4 linked regions of the Homo sapiens genome follow. The protein of the gene in region 2 interacts with the protein of the main gene of each other region in a biochemical or structural test. Each region holds a gene or a part of one and is shown on either strand. Other genes may lie near its edges.

Evidence for each region. Proteins that work in one complex are often made in the same cells at the same time.
Region 1: the proteins of KDM5A (region 2) and H3C15 form a complex in vitro, tested with the Homo sapiens proteins (one study listed by BioGRID).
Region 3: the proteins of KDM5A (region 2) and RBL1 form a complex in vitro, tested with the Homo sapiens proteins (one study listed by BioGRID).
Region 4: the proteins of KDM5A (region 2) and LMO2 form a complex in vitro, tested with the Homo sapiens proteins (one study listed by BioGRID).

The regions. Positions count from the first base shown.
Region 1 is NC_000001.11:149,851,108-149,853,625, forward strand, and holds H3C15 (histone H3.2), read left to right. Parts: upstream 1-1,500; 5' UTR 1,501-1,547; coding exon 1,548-1,958; 3' UTR 1,959-2,018; downstream 2,019-2,518. Other genes in the region: H2AC19 (histone H2A type 2-A), read left to right, coding at 7-399. UniProt on the Homo sapiens protein: Core component of nucleosome. Nucleosomes wrap and compact DNA into chromatin, limiting DNA accessibility to the cellular machineries which require DNA as a template.
Region 2 is NC_000012.12:379,321-382,820, forward strand, and holds part of KDM5A (lysine-specific demethylase 5A), read right to left. Parts: intron 1-3,500. UniProt on the Homo sapiens protein: Histone demethylase that specifically demethylates 'Lys-4' of histone H3, thereby playing a central role in histone code. Does not demethylate histone H3 'Lys-9', H3 'Lys-27', H3 'Lys-36', H3 'Lys-79' or H4 'Lys-20'.
Region 3 is NC_000020.11:37,033,498-37,036,997, reverse strand, and holds part of RBL1 (retinoblastoma-like protein 1), read left to right. Parts: intron 1-1,489; coding exon 1,490-1,756; intron 1,757-3,500. UniProt on the Homo sapiens protein: Key regulator of entry into cell division. Directly involved in heterochromatin formation by maintaining overall chromatin structure and, in particular, that of constitutive heterochromatin by stabilizing histone methylation.
Region 4 is NC_000011.10:33,861,077-33,864,576, forward strand, and holds part of LMO2 (rhombotin-2), read right to left. Parts: intron 1-3,500. UniProt on the Homo sapiens protein: Acts with TAL1/SCL to regulate red blood cell development. Also acts with LDB1 to maintain erythroid precursors in an immature state.

The DNA of each region.
Region 1 (2,518 bases), on a different chromosome or scaffold from region 2:
GCTGTCATGTCTGGTCGTGGCAAGCAAGGAGGCAAGGCCCGCGCCAAGGCCAAGTCGCGCTCGTCCCGCGCTGGCCTTCAGTTCCCGGTAGGGCGAGTGCATCGCTTGCTGCGCAAAGGCAACTACGCGGAGCGAGTGGGGGCCGGCGCGCCCGTCTACATGGCTGCGGTCCTCGAGTATCTGACCGCCGAGATCCTGGAGCTGGCGGGCAACGCGGCTCGGGACAACAAGAAGACGCGCATCATCCCTCGTCACCTCCAGCTGGCCATCCGCAACGACGAGGAACTGAACAAGCTGCTGGGCAAAGTCACCATCGCCCAGGGCGGCGTCTTGCCTAACATCCAGGCCGTACTGCTCCCTAAGAAGACGGAGAGTCACCACAAGGCAAAGGGCAAGTGAGGCTGACGTCCGGCCCAAGTGGGCCCAGCCCGGCCCGCGTCTCGAAGGGGCACCTGTGAACTCAAAAGGCTCTTTTCAGAGCCACCCACGTTTTCAAATAAAAGAGTTGTTAATGCTGGCCACTCTCAGTCCAGCGTTCCTCAGTAGTGAATAGCGAACCTGGAGCTGACGGGACGGGACGGGACGGGACGGGACGGGACGGGGCGGGGCGGGGCGGGGTGTGTGTGTGTGCGCGCCGTCTTCCATCTGGAGCACGTAACTGCCTTGGCTCTTCGATGAGTGGGTCCCCAGTCCTAGGACTTCCCAGGGCAGGTGCAGGCACCAAACGTCCTGGGCGCCGCCACGGTCCGCTCCACACAGTCACAAACACCAGCGCCGCGGGCAGTACCCAACGCGCTGAAGTGTTGCGCGCGGAGCGCGCGCTTCCCTAGTGGTTTCCGCAGGCTATGGCCGGACACTTAGACCTAGTCTGGCACCAGCGGGACGTGCTCCTCGTCCCCACCCCCGATGGGGAGGGCCCTGAGCGGGTAGTGCTCGCTAGTGTGGCGGAGCTGGGTCTTGGCTTCACTGAGCTGACTTAAGTCTTAGTTTCTGTTTTGTTTTCCAAAGCGCCCTGGCGGCGGAGAGTAAGGGCCTCGGAGGCGGAATCTTGCGTCCTGGGGGCGGGCACCTCTCCCACCCAAAAGGCACCCGACAGGCGAAAAACGATCCGCCAAGTAGCAACTGGGGGCGGGGGGCAAATGGAAGAATGAGGTTCCACGCGGGAGCTGTAGGGCGCAGCAAGAAAGGGGGGGTATTGCGGGCAGTGTGTTCTAAGGAAGCGAAGGGCGGAAAGGGAACAATCTGACAAAGCTGCAATGGAAAATGACTTTCACCCTGAAGGAAAGGGGAAAAACAAGCTTGCGAAACTTCGCCAACTGGTAAGTAGAAAGTGAGGCGGGGTGGGCGGGATTAGGGAGGAATCTGCCCAAGCCAACCGGTGACTTTAGGACGGGTGACGTCACAGCCAATGGACAGCCAGCGCGGGATTTTCAATTATTGTTCCGCCCAATCGGGAAAAGACTGTGCTTATAAAGACGGCTGCGGCGGGGCTAGGAGCTCGTTTTTCTCCCCGCCGCTGCGCTGGTAAGCCTGTGTTTTGGTTCGCTATGGCCCGTACTAAGCAGACTGCTCGCAAGTCGACCGGCGGCAAGGCCCCGAGGAAGCAGCTGGCCACCAAGGCGGCCCGCAAGAGCGCGCCGGCCACGGGCGGGGTGAAGAAGCCGCACCGCTACCGGCCCGGCACCGTAGCCCTGCGGGAGATCCGGCGCTACCAGAAGTCCACGGAGCTGCTGATCCGCAAGCTGCCCTTCCAGCGGCTGGTACGCGAGATCGCGCAGGACTTTAAGACGGACCTGCGCTTCCAGAGCTCGGCCGTGATGGCGCTGCAGGAGGCCAGCGAGGCCTACCTGGTGGGGCTGTTCGAAGACACGAACCTGTGCGCCATCCACGCCAAGCGCGTGACCATTATGCCCAAGGACATCCAGCTGGCCCGCCGCATCCGTGGAGAGCGGGCTTAAGAAGTGGCGGTTCGGCCGGAGGTTCCATCGTATCCAAAAGGCTCTTTTCAGAGCCACCCACATCAGCACTTGGAAGAAGCTGTACCGCTTGCCCTCCGTGCTCCTCCGGCATTAGAGCGGGGAAGGCACTTCCGCTTAGGCTCCCAACAAAACGGGGTCGGGTCCCCCTGCTGCGGTGCCGTCTTGAGCTTTGCCGACTTCGGCCAATTGGCCTATCCGCACTGGCCGGGCTGCGGACGCTTTCCTGGGCGCCGGCTCGCGGGCTTTGGCGGTCCGGCTCCCCCCGCGCGTGACCGGGGCCCTGCGTGGCGGGGGGGCCGGGGCAGGAGAGACGGGGCGTCGGGCACGAGGCCAGGGGTCACTAGGGGGACGCTCAGGGCTCGCGGTCCTGAGCGCGGCTGGCCTTTGCGGAAGTGGAGCGCCACACGCCCGTGCTTCGCGCCCAAACCGGCCTCACCCGGCGCGGCCATCCGGCTAGGGAGGGAAATGACCACCTCGGCCTCGCCGGGGTTCTGCGGACAAACGTGGGGAGAACTGCGCTGGGGCTGCCGTTCAGTCCC
Region 2 (3,500 bases):
GTTAATGAAATAAATAGTCACCCAATGATAAAGGTCAGAATAAATTACCTTTGTGAAGAAGTATTGACTGGAAAGGAGATGAAACAACCCACTAGAGTGCTATAAAAATGTTATATATCTTGATCTGCGTGATGGCTACAAAACAGGTGTACACATATGAAAATTTATTGAACTGTACGCTTGAAATTTGTGCATTACACTGTAAGTTACACCTCAATGTAAAAGAAAAAAGTTAACGTGAGAAGCAGCAATCTCACAATGACATTTAGGGAACAAAGTATTATAAACTAAAATAACTACAAATCAAAGTTTGTCTGCCTTTTAGCTTTAAATCTCAGTTTTGCAAACATTCTCACAGGTTGGGGAAAGAGATGTCCATGAGGACTTAAAAAAACCCACAAAGACAAGATTCCAATAAACCGTCAGATAAGCACACTTAACCTTTAATCATAACATATTTTCAATAAGTTTTCTGAATATTTAAACAAAGTGTACTTTATTAGTAGTATGAACCTTAAAAGGAAATCAGCTTCTCAAGATGGAGTTAAACACTCTGGATGACCGTTATAAGGAGAATTGTGAACAACTAAGTATTCAGACTAGGTTACCTCTAAAAGCCCCTTCCCTATTTTGAAATCCTATGACTTTAGAAAACCAGAAAAGTGCAGCCGGGCACGGTGGCTTGCACCTGTAATCCCACCATTTTGGGAGGCCAAGATGGGAGATCACTTGAGATCAGGAGTTCGTGACTAGCTTGGCCAACATGACGAAACCCCGTCTCTACTAAAAATACAAACATTAGCCAGGCGTGGTGGTGTGCGCCTGTAGTCCCAGCTGCTTCTGAGGCTGAGTGAGGGGAATCGCTTGAACCCAGGAGGTGGGAGGTTGCAGTGAGCCGAGATCACGCCTCTAGCCTGGGTGATGGGGGAGACTCCGTCTCCAAAAAAAAAAAAAAAATGCAATTTAACTTACCATCAGATTAAACCTAAGGTTTACCTTTTAAATGGAAAATCACTGACAGAGAAAGTTTCAATAGATTACTACTCATACTATTAATACTTACTCTAGCAAATTCCTTAGGGTATTTATGAAAATAAAATAGAGATAAAGATTGGCCGGGCACAGTGGCTCACACCTGTAATCCCTACACTTTGGGAGGCCAAGGTGGGCAGATCATTTCAGGTCAGGAGTTCAAGGCCAGCCTGGCCAACATGGTAAAAACCCCATCTTTACTAAAAATATAAAAATTAGCTGGGTGTGGTGGCACACACCTTTAATCCCAGTCCCAGCTACTCAGAAGGCTGAGGCATGAGAATCGGTTGAACCTGGGAGATGGAGGTAGCAGTGAGCCAAGATTGTGCCACTGCACTCCAGTCTGGGCAAAAGAGTGAGACTCTGTCTAAAAAAAAAAAGTAGAAAGAGCTTCATTAAAGAGTACTACAACATATTGCTATTAATGATAAAATAATTTTTGAAAAAAAAATTTTTTTTTCAGACACAGTTTCACTCTTGTTGCCCAGGCTGGAGTGCAGTGGTACTATCTCAACTCACTGCAACCTCTGCCTCCCGGTTTCAAGTGATTTCCTACCTCAGCCTCCTGAGCAGATGGAATTACAGGTGCCCACCACCACACCTGGCTAATTTTTTGCATAATTAGTAGAGATAGGTTTTATTTTATTTTTTTTTTTTAGACGGAGTTGTGCCGCTCTTATTGCCCAGGCTGAAGTGCAATGGCGTGATCTCAGCTCACCACAACCTCCACCTCCCGGGTTCAAGCAATTCTCCTGCCTCGGCCTCCCAAGTAGCTGAGATTACAGGCATGTGCCACCACGTCCGGCTAATTTTGTATTTTTAGTAGAGACGAGGTTTCTCCATGTTGGTTGGGTTGGTCTCGAACTCCCGACCTCAAGTGATCCTCCTGCCTCAGCCTCCCAAAGTGCTGGGATTACAGGCATGAGCCACCGTGCCCGGCTGAGACAGGTTTTCATCATGTTGGCCAGGCTGGTCTCAAAAACTCCTGACCTCAGGTGATCCATCCGCCTCAGCCTTCCAAAGTGCTGGGATTACAGGCATGAGCCACAGTGCCGAGCCAATTTTTGAAATTTTTTTTGTATTTTATTCATACTACAGTCAAACACATTCAGAATCTTAAACAGCATCATACAGCAAAACTTAGTAGGTAAGTTTTGATTGAATAAAAATTTCAAAAAAGCATTCTTAAGATGAATTTTTATCCTAATAGTTCCCTATAAGAAGAAACCCACCACCCAAATTTAGCATAATTTGTTCTTTAGTACCATAGGTTTTCATATAACTATACTAGACAATTCTTGACACAGTGCTTACTTACTAACATCATTACCTGACTGATTAAAAAAAGTCTCAAGCTGTATTTTAGCGTAAGACCGTACTTCCCAAATTTTTTAGTAAGAGAATTTTGACCTGACACTAATTTTAAAATGTATCATAAAAGATAATTTAAATATGGTTACTCTGTTTTTTTGGAAACAGGGTCTTGCTCTGTCACTCAAGCTGGAATGCAGTGGTGTGATGACAGCTCACCGCAGTCTTGACCTCCTGGGCTCAAGCAATCCTCCTGCCTCAGCCTCTTGATTAGCTGGGACTCCAGGAGTCCACCACCATGCCAGGATTATTTATTTTTTAATTTTTTGTAGAGATGGAGTCTCACTATGTTGCCTAGCCTGGTCTCGAACTCCTAGGTTCAAGCAATCCTTCCACCTCAGCCTCCCAAAGTGCTGGGATTATAGGTATGAGCCACCACATGCCACGAATTATTCTCATGTTTTTCCTTACAAGTGAAATCTTCCTGGCCACGCATGGTGGCTCACGCCTGTAATCCCAACACTCTGGGAGGCTGAGGCGGGTGGATCATCTGAGGTCAGGAGTTCGAGTCCAGCCTAACCAACATGGAGAAACCCTGTCTCTACTAACAATACAAAATTAGCCAGGTGTGGTGGCAGGCACCTGTAATCCCAGGTATTTGGGAGGCCAAGGCAGGAGAATCACTTGAACCCGGGAGGCTGAGGCAGAAGAATCACTTGAACCCGGGAGGTGGAGGCTGCAGTGAGCCGAGATGGCACCACTGCACTCCAGCCTGGGCAACAAGGGCGTGACTCCATTTCAAAAAAAAAAAAAAGTGAAATCTTCTAAAAGTAACTGCAATTTAAATAAGAATAAATTTTTATTTCAAAATAGTATATAAATTATAAGATATGAAAGGCCACAAGAAGAAGTTGTTTTACAAAATTCCCAGATAATTAAGCAATAATAAATTTGTATTATTGTAGTAACAAAACATATTTTAGCCGGGCGCGGTGGCTCACGCCTGTAATCTATAATCCCAGCACTTTGGGAGATCAAGGTGAGCGGATCACGAGGTCAGAAGTTCGAGACCAGCCTGACTAAGATAGTGAAACCCCATCTCTACTAAAAAATACAAAATTAGCCTGGTGTGTTGGCACATGCCTGTAATCCCAGCT
Region 3 (3,500 bases), on a different chromosome or scaffold from region 2:
TACAGAGAGCTTCTAAATCATTGCCAGGGGTCATTTTCATACCTTTTGAACATGTTTTGAAAATAGATTACAGGGCCAGGCGCAGTGGCTCACGCCTGTAATCCCAGCACTTTGGGAGGCCGAGGCGGGCAGATCACGAGGTCAGGAGATCGAGACCATCCTGGCTAACACGGTGAAACCCCATCTCTACTAAAAATACAAAAAATTAGCCGGGCATGGTGGCGGTTGCCTGTAGTTCCAGCTACTCAGGAGGCTGAGGCAGGAGAATGGCGTGAACCTGGGAGGCGGAGCTTGCAGTGAGCTGAGATCATACCACTGCACTCCAGCCTGGGCAACAGAGCGAGACTCCATCTCAAAAAAAAAAAAAAAAAGAAAAGAAAATAGATTACATGACTATCTAATTATCTAGTGAATGTAAAAATAAATAATGAAGGCCGGGCACGGTGGCTGAAGCTTGTAATCCCAAATGAGGCAGGTGGATCACCTGAGGTCAGGAGTTCAAGACCAGCCTGGCCAACATGGCAAAACCCTGTCTCTACTAAAAATAGAAAAATTAGCCAGGCATGGTGGCACATGCCTGTAGTCCCAGCTACTTGGGAGGCTGAGGCAGGAGAATCGCTTGAACCCAAGAGGCAGAGGTCACAGTAGGCCAAAATCGTGCCACTGCACTCCAGCCTGGGTGACAGAGCAAGACTCCATCTCATAAATAAATAAATACTTTTGTTTTAAAAGCATATTATTGACCTACCTGTAAGGAATAATTGGTTGAGGGAAGAATTGTGAAAAAAGATGTAGAAAAGATGTAGGGTTGTAAGGGGCTAGAAAAACCCGTGCAGCTGGTAGAGAGGGAATGGAAAGCAGATCCTGTGAAAGGATAGCACAGGAAGAGAGGCAAAATCCATAATCCTTACTTTATTTTTGATCAACACAGTACTGCCAACCCTCAGATTAAGGCAAGGTAAGCAGATTTATATCATCTTTACTCATATCTTCTGATAGATTTACTAAAGATGATTCCATATCTACTAAATTAGAAAGCCAGAGCTACCGCCTTAAACTGCTTGGAGTGCAAATATTCACAAAGAGGCAAAACTGTGACCCAAATTCCTGATTTTTGCTTTTGCTTCCCTTCTTCTCAGGTGCTCTCTACTAGGTAAGATTGGGAGATATTGGACTACTACTAAAATTTAGTGCTCACTTCATTCTACCTCTCAACCTCTACTTTGTCCTTAATGTTTTGCTCCTTTAATGTAGGCAGAGGTTCAAGAAACCAGGAAGATGAGTGATCATAATTTTCACGTTTTATCGTAGTGACTTATTTCATGCCTCTTTCTCCCAGTAGACTACATATTCCATGAGGGCAAAGGCCATGTTATTCATATCTAGCTAGTGCCCAGCATAAGTAACTCACTATCTGTTGAGTGAATGAGTAAACCTAATTTATTATTTTGGAATACATTTCTGTTTTAAATTTATTATTTTTTTTTAGATATGCAACCATTGTCTCCAATTTCTGTCCATGAACGCTACAGTTCTCCTACCGCAGGGAGTGCTAAGAGAAGACTCTTTGGAGAGGACCCCCCAAAGGAAATGCTTATGGACAAGATCATAACAGAAGGAACAAAATTGAAAATCGCTCCTTCTTCAAGCATTACTGCTGAAAATGTATCAATTTTACCTGGTCAAACTCTTCTAACAATGGCCACAGCCCCAGTAACAGGAACAACAGGACATAAAGTTACAATTCCATTACATGGTAACGTTATAGTGCATTTGTTTTGTACTTTTTCTGAGATAAAAATTTAAGAAATGTCTTAGTGGATTAGATCACATGGTTTTTCTAACTCATTATTTTTTCTTGAACCTATACTTTTTTTTTTTAAATAGATTTGAATTTTTTAGAGCAGTTGTAGATTCACAGCAAAATTCAGAGGAAGGTACAGACATTTCTCATAGTCCCCCTTCCCCAACCAGAGGCATATAAAGCCTCCCTCATTATCAGTATTCCACACCAGAATGCTACATTTGTTACAGTTGATGAACCTACATTACTGACACATTACCCAATGCCCATAGTTTACATTAGGGTTCACTCTTGGTGAATAGTTTATTGATTTTGAGAACGTATAATGACATGTATCTGTCACTATAGCTCCATACAGAGTAGTTTCACTGCCCTATAAATCCTCTGTGCCCCACCTTTTTGTTTTGAACCTATAGTGGTTTTTTTTTTATTTTTAAATTTTATAAATTTACTACCCTCTCTGTTTGTTTAGACTTATTTTACTTTTTCTTTTCTTCTTTTTTTATTTTTTGAGACAGGATCTCACTCTGTCACCCACATTGGAGTACAGCAGCATGATCTCATCTCACTGCAACCTCTGCTCCCAGGCTCAAGTGATCGTCCCACCTCAGCCTCCTGAGTAGCTGGGACCACAGGCAAGTGCCACCACTCCCAGCTAATTTTTTCTATTTGTGGTACAGATGAGGTTTTACCATGTTGCCCAGGTCTCAAACTACTTTTAAAATGTTCTTATCTGAGCTTTCCAATATGTATGTATTGAGCAAAAATTCTGTTTTTTGACTAACAGCTCAAGTGCTCAAAATGTTAAAAAAAAAAATGCTTTTTTTTCCAATAAATTTAAACTATAAATGTATCCCAGGCAAATACAAAATAGAGAACAAAATTTGCTTTTTTTTCCATAAATTTAAAGTATAAAAACAAAACCGAATATTCTTGTTTCTAGAAAATAAGGATTTATGCGGGGCATGGTAGCTTTCACCTGTAATCCCAGCACTTTGGGAGACCAAGGCAAGAGGATCACTTTAGCCCAGGAGTTTGAGACCCAGACTGGGCAACATAGCAATATCCTATCTCTACAAAAAATTAAATTAGCTGGGCATGGTGATGTATGCCTATGGTCCCAGCTACTTAGGAGGCTGAGGCAGGAGAATCACTTGAGCCCAGGAATTTGAGGCTACAGTGAGCCATGATCACGCTACTGTACTCCAGCCAGGACAACAGAGCAAGACATTGTCAAAAAAAAAAAGAAAAAGAAAAAAAAAAGGGGGCCCGGGGGGCGCCAGGCACAGTGGCTCACACCTATAATCCCAGCACTTTGGGAGGCTGAGGCAGGTGGATCACTTGAGGTCAGGAGTTTGAGACCAGCCTGGCCAACGTGGTGAAACCCCGTCTCTACTAAAAATAGAGAAAAAACATTAGCCGGGTGTGGTGGCGCATGCCTGTAGTCCCAACTATTCAGGAGGCTGAGGCAGGAGAATTGCTTGAACCTGGGAGGCAGAGGTCTCAGTGAGCCAAGATGAGGCCACTGCACTCCCACCTGGGTGACAGAGTGAGACTGTCTCAAAAAAAAAAAAAAAAAGTCCAGCTGCAGTGGCTCATGCCTGTAATCCTAGCATTTTGGGAGGCCAAGGCAGGCAGATGGCTTGAGCTGACGAGTTCGAGACTAACCTGGGCAACATGGCAAAACTCCCATCTC
Region 4 (3,500 bases), on a different chromosome or scaffold from region 2:
AAACAACCAAACGAAGCATGTCAGGGCACCCATGGTCAAGGGCTAAGCCAACGCTGGTTATGTTTTAACACATCTTGGGTGTATTCCCAGCTGTGCCAGTCTTGCTGCAGGAAGTAATTTTCACTCGTGGCTGAAAACATAGCATGTTAGCAGGTGGTTTCTACATAAAACCTTTAGGACAGTTTTAGGTGAATGCTTGCTCTTATTGGAAGTTCTGGTTGATTTCAGGATATCAGAGAATCAGTGGGTACATTCTGAGAGGTTGTAGGGGACCTAAGGGCAGTTGACACATTTTGCAATATTTGGGCGAGATTAATGGAATTGACAAGAGGTGGTCTGTGAGTGGAGAGCTCATTGTTCGGGCCAGGGCCAGCTAATTTGCCTCTGAATCCTGCTTTCCATTTGAAGATCTCTGAGTGTTTTCAAAGCACCGCCTGGGAGCAAACTCATTACTGGGGGGAGAACATTTTATCCCAACGTAGCAGATGGTGGAGCTGCAGGTAACCGCCACATTGGAGGTCACAGAGTGGAAAGACAGTTCTGGTTTCCTGACTGCTCTGTAAGTTAAGTTTGGGCCTGAGCAAGGATGAACGACTGAGAAAACAGTGTGCATGGAATGAATCCAACTGCCTGGGGTGTGCGATCCTTAAGGAAGGAGGGAGCTTATTAAAGGGAAGTCAGGGGGTAAATTACAACCCACATCAGGCAGCTATGAAGGGAAGGACAAAGGACGAATATGTGGGAGACAAGTTCAGGTCCCAGCATGACCTCTAACTTGCCAGGTGACCTGAGCAAATGGAGTCCCCTGTACAGGCTTCTGTGACTTAAGCCATAAAGCAAGGGAACTGAAAAAGAAGGTCTCTGTAGCCCCTTCCAGCTCTGGGATTCGGAGATTCTAATATTAGTAAAAAATAAGCCGGGACTTGACACCTAACTTGAGCATTAACCTCTGGCACCAAGAATTGGTATCTTAGGCTGGATATCCCAGAAGCAGCCCCTGAGGCAAGGATTGATGTGCCAGTGATTTATGAATGAGGCATTCTCAGGAAAAACCTGGAAGGCAGCAGGGGAGGCTGGAGGGAAGGGGAGGAAGCCAAGCCAAGTTGTATCCTCAGGCAAAGTCCCTCAGAGGGGAGGGACCCTGGAATATAAGTTATGCCTGGCTCCAGGCAAGGCTGCGGGGCTTGGTACTCCCACCATGTCTGTCACTGGTTAAGGTCCGTTGGGGGTCTAGTTGGGGCAGGCATACTTCTGGCTCTAACAGATTCAGGTGCTGGCTGTTAAAAGCAAAACCACTGCCATCACCGCCACCCCACCACTCCCAGCACACAAGAATTAGTGAAAAGGGATCCAAGGAGATCTGGCTCAGCACAGACATGAACAGCTGCTCTTGGGTTCCCAACAATACAACACAGCAGCAGAGTTGAGGTTCTGCATGGGGGTCTCATGAATGTTTGAAGCTAAATGTCGGAAAAGAACTGTAACAGGCAACTCAGCCATTGGAAATCCTCACGGGGACAAGTTATCCTAGGGGTGAAGAACTCAAACACATTAGAGGGCCCGTTCAGTTACTCCTCCAACTTGCCTTGTTAAAAGATCCTGCCAGATATACTAAGAATGCCAGTAAACAAGACCTTGGCTAAAGGACCATCCCTGACGCAAAAGACAATTTTTCTCCTCTGTCAAGAGATGTCCCATCTTAAGCTCTCTGCTGCCCATTTTAATAACAATAATATAAATATTAAAGAATGGCTGGAAATGCCTGCACTAATGCAGAGTTAATTAACATGTTGCCTAGGAATGTGGCAGGGAGAAGAATTATTTCATGTCACCAAGACACAAGTTAATTAACATTGGGTTCTCCCAGACTGTTTTTTTTTTCCTCTCCTTTTTGAAAATGGAAAGGATTAACAAGCCCAGGCAGCACTGGTTTTATTCCTGAATGTTATATAAAACGGTAGAGATAGGGAGAAGCTGGGGCTCTTCTGACCTTACTCTATCTGCACTTCAGTTAATAAGATTCAAATGATTTGACAGGGATGGAGTCAAGGGTCCGATGGGAATCATTTACCCGTCTGCCCTCTCACTGACTTGGCAAACTGGGAGTGAGCAAAACCAGGTCTGTATTTATCCAAGTTCTATTTTCTGTGACTTAAAAAAAAGAAAACTGACCAAAATTATAAGCATGATCATTGCAAAATCCTACTTATTTTCTCGGAACCACCATATCTGCAAGGACTGCAAGAACTTTATCTGGGAATTCAAGGACAAAAAGCTTCTTCTAACAGTCTTTAGGTAAAGCTTCCTTCACTGTGAAACTGCCTGCAGTTTTTTTGGTTTTGTTTTGTTTCTATAATGTAAAATGCTCTGAGGGCAGGTTTGGGAGGAAAAGCTGGCCCAGCAGCCAAGGGCGCTGAGGTCTCAACAAGCTTCCATGGGTTGGATGGTCCTGGTGTATCAGGGAAGCATGCTTCACAGACCCTCTGCTCCAGGAAAACGGAGAAATACTGACAGCTACACAGTTGAGCAGATCTGACAGTAGAGGGCACAGAGACAGTTACCTCCACAGCAGCTCATCGGAAACTAGAAACACTAGTACATTCTAGGCAAAGGCTTTCACACAGTGCTGGAAAATTCGGATGGCCAATAGGATGGCCCAGAGCATGGGAGATGTCCTCAGCTCCTGTCTTACTTGGTGTTGTCGAGTTCCTATTTTACTCTTCCATTCTTCCATCCCTTTGCTCATTAGATTGGAAAATAATGATTATGTAAGAGCAGCTAACATCTATTTGATCCATACCAAGCCAAGTAGTTTATCTGCATTATTCCATCAAATCCTCCCCACATCCTTAGAGGTAGGTGCTATTATCATCCCCATTTTACAGATAAGGAAATCGAGGCTTAGGAAGGTTAAATAACTTGCCCAAGGCCACCAAGCTGGGAAGCAATGGTATTGGGACTCAAACCTCCAACTGCCTACAGGGCCTTTGCCTTTCTGCTCTTCGAAGACTGCCTTCCTGCTATGAGTCAATGCTTGGAGCTCCATATGCTTTCTATTTTTAAATTTCTCATCATATAATACTGGAGTCATACAAAAAAAATTTATAACATACATATATGTTCTGAAGCATTCAAATGAGGTCCTCAGAGCCCACCTCCAAACTTAGAAACACTCCCAGTCCCTCTGATCCTCCGTGTGTACTCCTCCTCAATCCCATCCCCTAGCTTCTCCCGCTCCCCAAGGGAAGCACTTTTCTGAATTTTGGGTATACAATTCTCTTGCCTTTAAAGATATTAGTATTTTACCACATAGGAACGTAACCCTGAGAACATGCTTCTCAAACAGGAAGAAATGCCCTCTGCTTCTCAGCACAGGAGCTGAGACTCAGCCTCTGCAGTCTGACCTCTTTCTATAGGTGGTGTCCGAGCCTGGAGCAGGGTAAGGGGCAACACACACCGACTGCAGATGTCCATGGACCACCCAGCCTCCCTTCCGAGGG